2 separate regions of the Homo sapiens genome follow, and region 2 is linked to region 1. The links come from fine-mapping of genetic effects on plasma protein levels. A gene starts in region 1. The other region holds a variant in brackets. All regions are shown on one strand. Distances are between the middles of the regions.

Region 1 (5,388 bases):
TTCTGAGTCACTTACTTTGTCGTTTGAGCAACTTGCTCATATTCTCCAAGCTGCCCTGGAGTGCCCGGATCTTTGTATTTAAAGCACTGGCTTTCTCCAAATCACTTTTTAACTCTGGGATTTGGGCATTTAAGGTACTGACTTCTTCCCAACTTCTTGTTAAGATCTGGATCTGTGCGTTGGCCTTCTCCACACTGGTTTTTAACTTCAGGAACTGAGAACGCACATAACCCAGGCTCTCATTCACCATCTGGATCTGAACGCCAGCTGCCTCCATGCCGTCACTATTCTTTTTAATTTCAGAATCCAGGGTGCTGATGTTGTCCACACGACCTTTCAGCAACTGGACATTGGTCTTTACATCTGATATGGTGCCCATAAACCGGGGATCTGGGATTGAGAAAGTCAGGAGGTCAGCTGAGGGGAGTCCCAGGGACAGGAGTGGGGGTGTTGTCAGGTTGATCAAAGGAAGGGAAGGAATAGGCTGAAGCTTCCCAAAGAACCAAGACAGTCCAATGGGCCACCCCAACCCTCCAATCATTCATTAACGTACAACAAACGTGCAATGGGCACCTACCATGTGCCAGGAACACAGGTGGATACAGATAATGGGGAGATTGATAAAACACAGGCTCTCTGTGAAAAGATTTCACAGGCAAGCAGAAGCAGGAGTTAGAAACCATTCCTGAATTTTCTGAGTGTTCAGGGAACATTTGATAAAGGGTGCCCTCCATGAGCCCCACCACTGTCCCCAGAACTTGATTCCCCCTAGACCCCACCCCTTGGTTGCCATCCCTCTGTTTTCAGAAACCCCTGCAGTGGCCATCTGCTAGGACAGCACCACTCCCCCACATCTGTCCATGGGCCCCTCTGTGACCATGGGAAGAACCAGCCACTAATCTGGAAGTGGCTTCTCCAGAGAACATGGAAGAGGAGATTACAAAACTGTTTCTCCCCTTCCCTTGCCCCACCCACTTTCACATTCTGCTCAGGTCCCAGGCCTGGGTACCAGAGAGAGGATCAAAGATAAACCAAGAGGCTCAAAGGCGAGCCCTGAGGAAAATGCGATGTTAGAGGCCAGGGGTCTAGGATGGGGCAAGGGGGACTCTGCTCAGAGCCTACAAGTCTAAGCCCAAATATGTCCCGAGGCCACAGAGGGAGAAAAAAAAACCCAACAGCTTCTTGGGTCCCTTTGCTCTGCTTCCTGGAGCCCTGGCAGGAGGAAGAAGGCTCTGCCAGCAGCAAAGGCCATGAAGCCTGACAGAGCCAGAAAAGGAAGAAAGATAAACCATGCAACATCAAATGAGCAGGAAGCCTCCCTAGATGTGATCTTCACAGGGACAGGAGAATGAAGACAGCACCAACGAGTCCTGGGGAGAGGGGACTGAGTCATGGAGATCTGTTGGCTCGTTGGCCAGGCTCTCCATCTGGTGAGCTGGGGCCAATGATACATGAGGCTCGGTCCTTCACAGGGTCAGGAGACATTGCACTGTCAAGGACTGTCCACAAGGCTCTAGATCCAAGGAGCAGAGCTCAGATTGGTGGGGGGTGGACGGGGAGAAAATAGCACAGGATGTAAAACTAGATCAATGTTTCCTGAGGACAAAAGAATGTATCCTTGAGCACCAATGTGCAAATGCTAATCCCAATAATCTCCCAGAAATTGGGAGGGAAAGAGCATCAGCTCACCGTACTGGGGGCAGCACAGCCTGTTACTGCACATGGAAAGAGGAGGAAGGAGACAAATGAAAAAGCCACAGGCAGGAGAAACCCGGAGAGCAGGGAAGTGGTCTCGATCTGAAGGGAGCCGGCTGGCCACAGAGAGGGGCTAAGCCCAGACGATGAAACATGAGGACTTACAAAGGACGGCCTGCAGCAGGACGGAGGCGACCAGGACCAGCGTCAGGCAGATTAATGCAGCACGGACTGTGGGTGTTTTCCCCGGGACCAGAGATGGACCGGACTTGGGAGGAGGCTCTGTTGGAAGAAGAAGAAAATGTGTGTTGAAGGAGCAGCAAAGGGCAGGTTTGCACACAGAACACGGAGCAGGTTCTCAGCAGCGATGTGGCTTGCCTCGGGGCCAGAGGGAGATGTTCTGTTTGTCCACAGTGAAGTGCGCATCAGGGGCCTCCTTCTCCACAGTCATCCTGAGTGCTCACCCTTATCCTGGGAGCACAGGTGCTTCTGGCTGCCTGTCTCTCCAAGGGCTCTTATCTAGAGGAAACAGGAAGTCAGTCCCACAGCAGGTCACCATATCATCCCAACTTCCCTATTCCTGACTAGATACCTTGTCTGGCTTACTCCCATCCTCAGAAGTCTGAGCTTTCAGGAAGAGGCCATTTGTTGTCTTCTCTGGGGGTCTGTTACATGGATACATTAACCATCTTGTCCCAAACCTATCCCATTTCTCTTGTAAGACTCTCGTCATCCATCCACCCATCCATTCACCCCACAAATACAGGCTGAGTGCCTTCTAGGTACTGATGCTCTACCAGGCATAGGGCCACAGTGATGAATAACTCGCAGTCCTTGCACCAAGCAGCTCATAGTCTGGTAGGAAAGACAGACATGAGCAAATAAATTGCAAGGTGATGAGCACAAGAGACAAATATGCCCAGTTCAAAGAAGCATATGAAATGGAGTAATGGGAAAAAAAAAAATCCAGTAGAAAGATAAGCATATGCCAAAGGATGGAGCATAAGATAGCATGGAGTGCTTGGCAAATTGTAAATAGTTGCAATATTGCTGGAATGTAAAATATACATTCCAACAGGAAGGGGATGCACACGGGGTTGAAGAGGCACCTGGGGTCTGATGATGAAGATCCTTCTGATCATGTCAAGGAGCTGGACCTCTGGCTTGTGGGTGACATGGGGCCAATTAAGGACTTCAGGCAGGAGAGAGACAAGGACAGGGACACTGTAGAAACATCACTCTGATCCTGGTGAGGAGCAGACTGGTGGGGAGAAGCCTGGAAGCAGAGATACCAAATAGGCAACCATTGCAATAGAATATCCTGCTTCCTGTTATTAATGCATCTTGGCTGATACAATATCCCTTTATAATATGCAACTTGGAGATTCAAAGTGTAAACCTAAGACTTGGGTTCTCCTCCCTGCTTCCTGCACCATGTGAGATTTTCAAAAAAAGTAGGGGCGCTCAGCAACCTCAGACTAGGAATCGTTCTGTTTCTCTCTCCTCTCTCTCTGTCCGCACCTCCTCTCTCCTTCTTTGTAGTCCTAAATAGAGAGTTCCATATGTGCAAGAAGCTCAGGGCACAGAAGAGCTGATTTGGGCTCAATGAAGGACTAAATTTTCTCCTGGGCGGCTTCTCATGCTTTGAAGAAGTCTGCCAAATCTGAGAAATTTGGCACATGGCAGACTCTAGACAAATATTTCTTGGAATATAGGAAAGAGGAGAGGAAAGAGGGAGGGAAGGAAAGAAAAAAGAAGGAAATTGGTCCAGATAATTGGAGGATGGGTGAATGGATGAATGGATGGATAGAGGATGCATGGATGGATGTGTGAATGGTAAGTGACTTGGAGACTTGATAGCTGATCATGCCACTCAGACATTTACACAGTCTGGGGCCTGGGATCTGCCTTCTAGAAGCTGCTGCTTTTTTCCACTGTCTCCAGAAGTTCTCATTCATCTTCAATGCAAAAGCATAAGGGGAAGTGTGATTTACTCCTTACCCAGGAATGAACAAAAGCTCTGGCCGCAGGAAAAGAAAGCTGTCCTGGGCCTGCTGAGGCTGAGCCAGTGGAGCTGGATGACAGCCTGTATCAGGGACCAGGATTAGAGGTTAAGTTAACAGGGCCAAGGAAATATCTACCTATGCTTTCAGGGGCTACTGCCACCTTTGGTACTTGGGAGGATAGTGGCTGCACGCTCAGCCCATGCCTATGTGCAGCTCATTGTAGTTACAGGCCCTTGATGCTCTCTCTCCAGCTAACCGGGCCTCAGGCTGGAGTGGCTTCTCGGACTGGATGAGGGAACCCAGAGAGGACCCCACACTGGGAAGCTCTGGGAAGGAAACTGGGTAGCAAAGATGGTGTCTCATTTGTTCTGTCCCATCGCTTCCCTACCCAGCCTGTCTGTAACTTCCAGGCCTGCTGTCTGCTCTAAATTTTAACATTTGATAGTCCCGAATATGAGGGCCTGGCTCCACATCACTGCCTGCCTCTGGGTGTCCATGAAGATTCCTACTCTCTTCAGGTGGCTCGTGTGGTTGCAGAGCCTTGGTTCCATCAGGGCTTAGACAGGATTAGAATGTTCCACTTCTGGACTCTCATGCTTGGGACCCAGCCTAACTCCAGAATCATCTCTGCCCTTCTGCTCCTGGCTCCTGGCCCTTCATCCATAGCCTGTCCTATTTCTGGGCCTGGGGATAGAGAAGAATCCAAATTACTCAAGACCCTGGTAGAAGGGGCCTTGCAGGGGTCCATGTCTCCTCCTGAGGCATTTGCGGGAAAGAAGCCGCCACACAGTGTGCCTGGGAAGTGTCTTGTCCATTTCCGCTCGGTCAGGAAGTTGGGTTTTCTCTGCTGGTTTGTGGTATGAGTTATACTTTATAGAGCCCCCCAGATGCCCTCTCATTGGTCCCAGGAAAGGATGAGGAAGCCTTAGCGGCTGGGCCCATGGCATAGGAAGGGGCTGGAGCAGGGAGCATTTACTCCAAGTGATGGAAATGCAGGCTGAGGTAGGTAGAATAGCTACCGCTAGGCGAAAGGCTGTTCCAGCATGAGGAAGCTGAGCAAAGGCATGGAATCCTGGGCTGTGGGCCTTCTGGGGTTTCAGAGGAGGTGGATGTAAAAGTCCCAAACCATAGGAAGTTTCATTTCCCACTTTGTGGAGAGGGAGGGAGTCAGAAGCCATCTTCCTATTATCATGCTCATCTACAGGTCTTTCCTGAGCACCTCTCCTGTGCAAACCTCTGGATGCTCTATCTGGCACCTGGCCTGGCAGGAGAAAAGACAGAGAAGCAGGCAGGTGCCTTGGCCACACTTTCCAGTCAGGAAGGTGGGCAGTTCTCCCGGGCACTCAGACAATGCCCTGCTCTTCCAAACAGAAGAGGAACTCTGGCCAGACCTAGTGACCAAAAAAATCACCGCTGTGATGAGAACGGGAAGTCTGTGCTCATTTTTTTAGTTTCTCCTCTTCCTGTGTTCCTGGGGTTCTAATATTTTCTCTGGATAAGGATGGAGGAAGAAAACAGCTTGGTCACTTTTTCCCTTTCTCTGGTTGAGACTATGGTTGGGCCCAGCCTTATGCTTGGAGGAGAACCATGGGTTTAATCAACAAGACTGGAACAGAGACCTGGGTTGTATGAAATGCTCCAGCAGTGCCAAGAGTCATCTCCAGGGAGGAGTCACCCAAGTCCCTCA
Region 2 (5,388 bases), 47 kb after region 1:
CTACAAACCACAGCTCAATGAAATAAAAGAGGACACAAACAAATGAAAGAATATTCCATGCTAATGGATAGGAAGAATCAATATCATGAAAATGGCCATACTACCCAAAGTAATTCATAGATTCAATGCCATCCCCATGAAGCTACAAATGACTTTCTTCAGGGAATTGGAAAAAACTGCTTTAAAGTTCTTATGGAACCAAAAAAGAGCCTGCATTGACAAGACAATCCTAAGCAAAAAGAACAAAGCTGGAGGCATCATGCTACCTGACTTTAAACTGCACTACAAGCCTACAGTAACCAAAACAGCACGGTACTGGTACCAAAACAGACATATAGACCAATGGAACAGAACAGAGCCCTTAGAAATAACACCACACATCTACAACTATTTGATCTTTGACAAAAACAAGAAATGGGGAAAGGATTCCCTATTTAATAAATGGTGCTGGGAAAACAGGTTAGCCATATGTAGAAAGCTGAAACTGGATCCCTTCCTTACACCTTACACAAAAATTAACTCAAGATGGAGTAAAGACTTAAATGTTAGACTTAAAATCATAAACACCCTAGAAGAAAACCTAGGCAATACCATTCAGGACATAGGCATGGGCAAGGACTTCATGACTAAAACACCAAAAGCAATGGCAACAAAAGCCAAAATAGACAAATGGGATCTGATTAAACTAAAGAGCTTCTGCACAGCAAAAGAAACTACCATCAGAGTGAACAGCCAACCTACAGAATGGGAGAAAATTTTTGCAATCTACCCATCTGACAAAGGGCTAATATCCAGAATCTACAAAGAACTCAAACAAATTTACAAGAAAAAAACAAACAATCCCATCAAAAAGTGGGCAAAGGACATGAACAGACACTTCTCAAAAGAAGACATCTATGCAACCAACAGACACATGAAAAAATGCTCGTCATCACTGGTCATTAGAGAAATGCAAATCAAAACCACAATGAGATACCATCTCATGCCAGTTAGAATGGCAATCATTAAAAAGTCAGGAAACAACAGATGCTGGAGAGGATGTGGAGAAATAGGAATGCTTTTATACTGTTGGTGGGAGTGTAAATTAGTTCAACCATTGTGGAAGACAGTGTGGCAATTCCTCAAGGATCTAGAACTAGAGTTACCATTTGACCCAGCGATCCCATTACTGAGTATATACCCAAAGGATTATAAATCATGCTGCTATAAAGACACATGCACACGTATGTTTATTGCAACACTATTCAACAGCAAAGACTTGGAACCAACCCAAATGTCCATCAATGATAGACTGGATTAAGAAAATGTGGCACATATACACCACAGAATACTATGCAGCCATAAAAAAAGGATGAGTTCATGTCCTTTGCAGGGACATGGATGAAGCTGGAAACCATCATTCTCAGCAAACTATCACAAGGACAGAAAACCAAACACTGCATTTTCTCACTCATAGGTGGGAATTGAACAACGAGATCACTTGGACACAGGGTGGGGAACATCACACACCGGGGCCTCTCAGGGGGTGGGGGGTTGGGGAAGGGATAGCATTAGAAGAAATACCTAATGTAAATGATGAGTTGATGGGTGCAGCAAACCAACATGGTACATGTATACCTATGTATCAAACCTGCATGTTATGCATATGTACCTAGAACTTAAAGTATAAAAAAGAAAAAAGAAGTGAAGCCTGAAGATGCGACTGAATTGCTGCAATCTCATGATAAAACTTGAATGAATGAGGAGTTGCTTCTTATGGTTGAGCAAAGAAAGTGGTTTCTTGAGATGGAATCTACTTCCAGTGAAGATGTTGTGAACATTATTTGCAATGGCAACAAAGGGTTTAGAATATTACATACACTTAGTTGATAAAGCAGCAGCAGAGTTTGAGAAAACTGATTCCAATTTTGAAAGAAGTTCTATCGTGGGTAAAATGCTGTCAAACAGCATCTCATGCTACAGAGAAATCTCTCATAAAAAAAAGAGTCAATTGATGTGGCAAAAAAAATACAATTTTTTATATATATATATAGTTGCTCTTCCCTTCCTGAAAATGTCATCCAAAAGCCATTAGGTAGGGCCAAGCAAGGTAAGCATCCCCATAAGGGAGAGTGTCTGCCATGGTGAATCCGCATGGGTGTGTTGGGATCCAAGCAGGGAGACATCCACACAGTGTCAGCATCAGATACCTCAGCCACAGTGGGGTGAGCAGAGTCTCCTCAGTGGGGGTGGGGCACAGAGAGGCAATGCAGCCACAGGAAACTCGTTACACACCAGGAAACTGATCAAATATACATACTGAGGAAAATAGGAGACAGATTTCTCACTGTTCGAGAAGGTAGCATAAATACAGAAAAGAAGAAAACTAGAAAAAGCTCTTCCAGCCTGGGCAATATAGGAGGACTCTGTCTCTACAAAAAATGGGAAATTAACTGGGCATGGTGGTGCACACCAGTAGTCCTGGCTCCTCAGGAGGCTGAGGTGAGAGGATCACTTGAGCCCAGGATTT[C/T]GAGGCTGCAGAGAGCTATGATTGCACCACTGCACTCCAACCTGTGCAACTAGAGGACTCTACCTTAAAAATATAAATAATAAATAATAAAACTCAATAATATAAAAACAAATAACCCAATGTGAAAAAGAGCAAAGGACATAAATAGATATTTCTTTACAGAAGATATACAAATGGCCAAGAAACACATGAAAAGATAGACAACATCATTAGTCATCAGGGAAATGCAAATAAGAACCACATTGAAATACAAAGTCACATCCACTAGGATGGCTATAATTGAAAAAACAGACAATAACAAGTGTTGCCAAGGATGTGGAACAATTGGAATTCTTATTCATTGCTAGGGGAAAATGTAAAATGGGACAGCCACTTTGGAAGACAGTGCGGTAGGTCCTCAAAAATTTAAAGATAGAATTAGTTGTTTGACCTAGCAATTCCACTCCTAGGTATGTACCCAAGAGATATGAAAATATATGGCCACCGAAAACTTCTCCAAGAACATTCACAGCAGGATGTATTCATAATAGCTAAACAGTGGAAACAACCCAAATGTCCATCAACTGACGAATAGATAAACTGTGGTATGTCCATACAATGGAATTATTCATCCATTAAAAATGAAGTACTGATTTATGCTACAATACGGATGAACCTTGAAAACATTATGGTAAGGGAAAGAAGTCAGTCACAAAAGACCATATATTGAACAATTCCATTTATATGATATGTTCAGAATAGGCAAATCTATAGAGACACAATGTAGATAGTTACCTAGGGCTGGCAGGGATGGGAGAATTGGGAGGTGAAAGCTAACAGGAATGGGATTTCTTTTGGGGATGATGAAAATGTTCTAAAATTGATTATAGGAGTGGTTGTACAACTCTGTGAATATACATATTAAAAAACATTACACAGTGTATTTTAAATAGGTGAAGTGTATGATACATGAATGATATCTCAATAAAGCTATTACCCCCAAAAAAGGACATTTGGGACAATTCACAAATTAAATAAATAATATAGTAACAAAATATAGCCTATTGAATACATTAGGAATCCATTTGTTGATATTGATCTAAACAATGCACAAAGAGCTTGATGAGGGGCAGGATATATAGATAGTCTAAAAGTTCCTCCCTGCAAAATACTTATTAAATGCAAAGGGAAAAATAACCTTACAGGGAGAAACTTAATTCTCACTCAAATGATCAAAGTTAACATCACCAGTACAGGATATATCAAAATCATGTACCATCTGATAGGACACAATGAGAAGAATTCAATATCACTTCTGTGATATTCCTGCCAAAGATGCATAGTCTGAATTGAATTGTGAGGAAACATGAGATAAATCCACACCGAGGGGCTTTCTACATAATAACTGGCCGTGAAAGTCAAAGACTGGAACTAACTGTCACAGATTGAAGGAGACTAAAGAGACGTGACAACTGACTGCAATACATCTTTACTGCATCCTTTTGATAATAAAGGACATTTGCAGAACCATTGACAAGGGGGTCTGAGGAGTCAATTGTGATAGCATTAATTTTCTAATTTTGATGATTGCATTGCGATTTCAAGGGAGAATGTCCTTGTTTGTTAGAAATACAAAATAAAGCATTATGTCAGCAACTTGAGTTCAAACAGGTAAGTGGAGGAGGGGGTTTCTTTGTAATGCTCTTGACAATTTCTCTGTAAGTTTCAGACTGTTCAAAATAAAACAAGGAACTCCAATATATACAATCTAACTAACTGGTCCATATTCTTCAAAAATATCTGTTACAAACATACACAAAAAAAGCTGATAAACTGTTTCCAGGTAAAGGAGGCTAACAAGAACTTAAAAACTAAATGCAATGGGTAATATTGAATTAAATCTGGGACCAGAAAAAAATAATAATATTATAAAGGATATTATTGGGACAATTGATGAAATTTGAATAAGATCTGAAGATTATATATCAATGTTAAGATTCCTAATTTTAATCACTGCAATGTGGCATGTAGGTGATGGCCCTCAGGAAATGCACGCGAAAGTATTTAATAGTAAAACGGCATGGTGTCTGCAACTTATCCTCAAATGCTTCCATAAAAATAATTTTAAAAGAGAATGATAATGCAATTGCAGCTTAAAGACAATACTAGAGTTTTGTAATATTCTTGCAACTTTCCCATAAATTTGAAATTGTTTTTAACAATTTTAAATAATATTTAAAATGAAATATAAAACTCAATACCATGTACATACAATAAAAACGCACACCAAAAAAAAGAGCTTATTTTGTGAGAATATATGACAACAAAGACTAACAGCAAATACAACCCAGTGGTTTGGAGGAGGGGGTTGTGAAATTCAGGGAGGAGAATGTGAGTGCGTGAGTGCTCAGTCTAAAAAGATTAAACACACAATTTTTTTTTTAAACGGAGCTTCACTCTTTTCGCCCAAGCTGGAGCGCAATGGTGCGATCTCGGCTCACTGCAACGTCCGCCTCCCGGGTTCAAGCGATTCTCCAGCCTCAGCCTCCGGAGTAGCTGGGATTACAGGCGCTAGCCACCACGCCCAGCTAATTTTTGTATTTTTAGTAGAAACGGGGTTTCACCATGTTGGCCAGGCTGGTGATCTCCTGACCTCAGGTGATCGGCCCACCTCGGCCCACCTCGGCCTCCCAAAGTGCTGGGATTACAGGCATGAGCCACCGTGCCCGGCCTAAATACACTATTTTTAAAACAGACTAGGGAGGGGAGCTGCCGAAACAATCCCCAAACTTCTCACTTCACACTTCTGAGGAATGAGATGGGGTAGAAGTAGGGACAAGCATGAAGGGAGGTGTCATGTTTTATCTTTATCTTTTGGCACTGTTTGAACTTTTATTATA

Alleles and levels. Alleles are on the strand shown, and positions count from the first base shown. The strength of an association depends on the size of the effect and on how common the allele is.
For the plasma level of the protein whose gene starts at base 2,186 in region 1, C is the high allele of the variant in region 2 and T is the other (weak association).

The links. PIP is the chance, under the fine-mapping model, that this variant and not a neighbour inherited with it causes the effect. The UK Biobank Pharma Proteomics Project read protein levels with antibody pairs (Olink). The fine-mapping took linkage between variants from a reference panel, not from the people measured, so its PIPs are less certain.
Region 2: its variant is fine-mapped to the plasma level of the CD207 protein (UK Biobank, PIP above 0.99).

The regions. Positions count from the first base shown.
Region 1 is chr2:70,833,631-70,839,018 of GRCh38, forward strand. It overlaps CD207 (CD207 molecule), which reads right to left and starts at 2,186. Exons shown (of 6, transcript NM_015717.5): 1 at 2,074-2,186; 2 at 1,861-1,977; 3 at 16-390. The coding sequence starts at 2,146.
Region 2 is chr2:70,880,406-70,885,793 of GRCh38, forward strand. No RefSeq gene overlaps it. Among named protein-coding and RNA genes, the nearest start is that of LINC01143, 4.8 kb to the right of the region's middle. The variant C/T (reference allele first, on the strand shown) is at 2,510.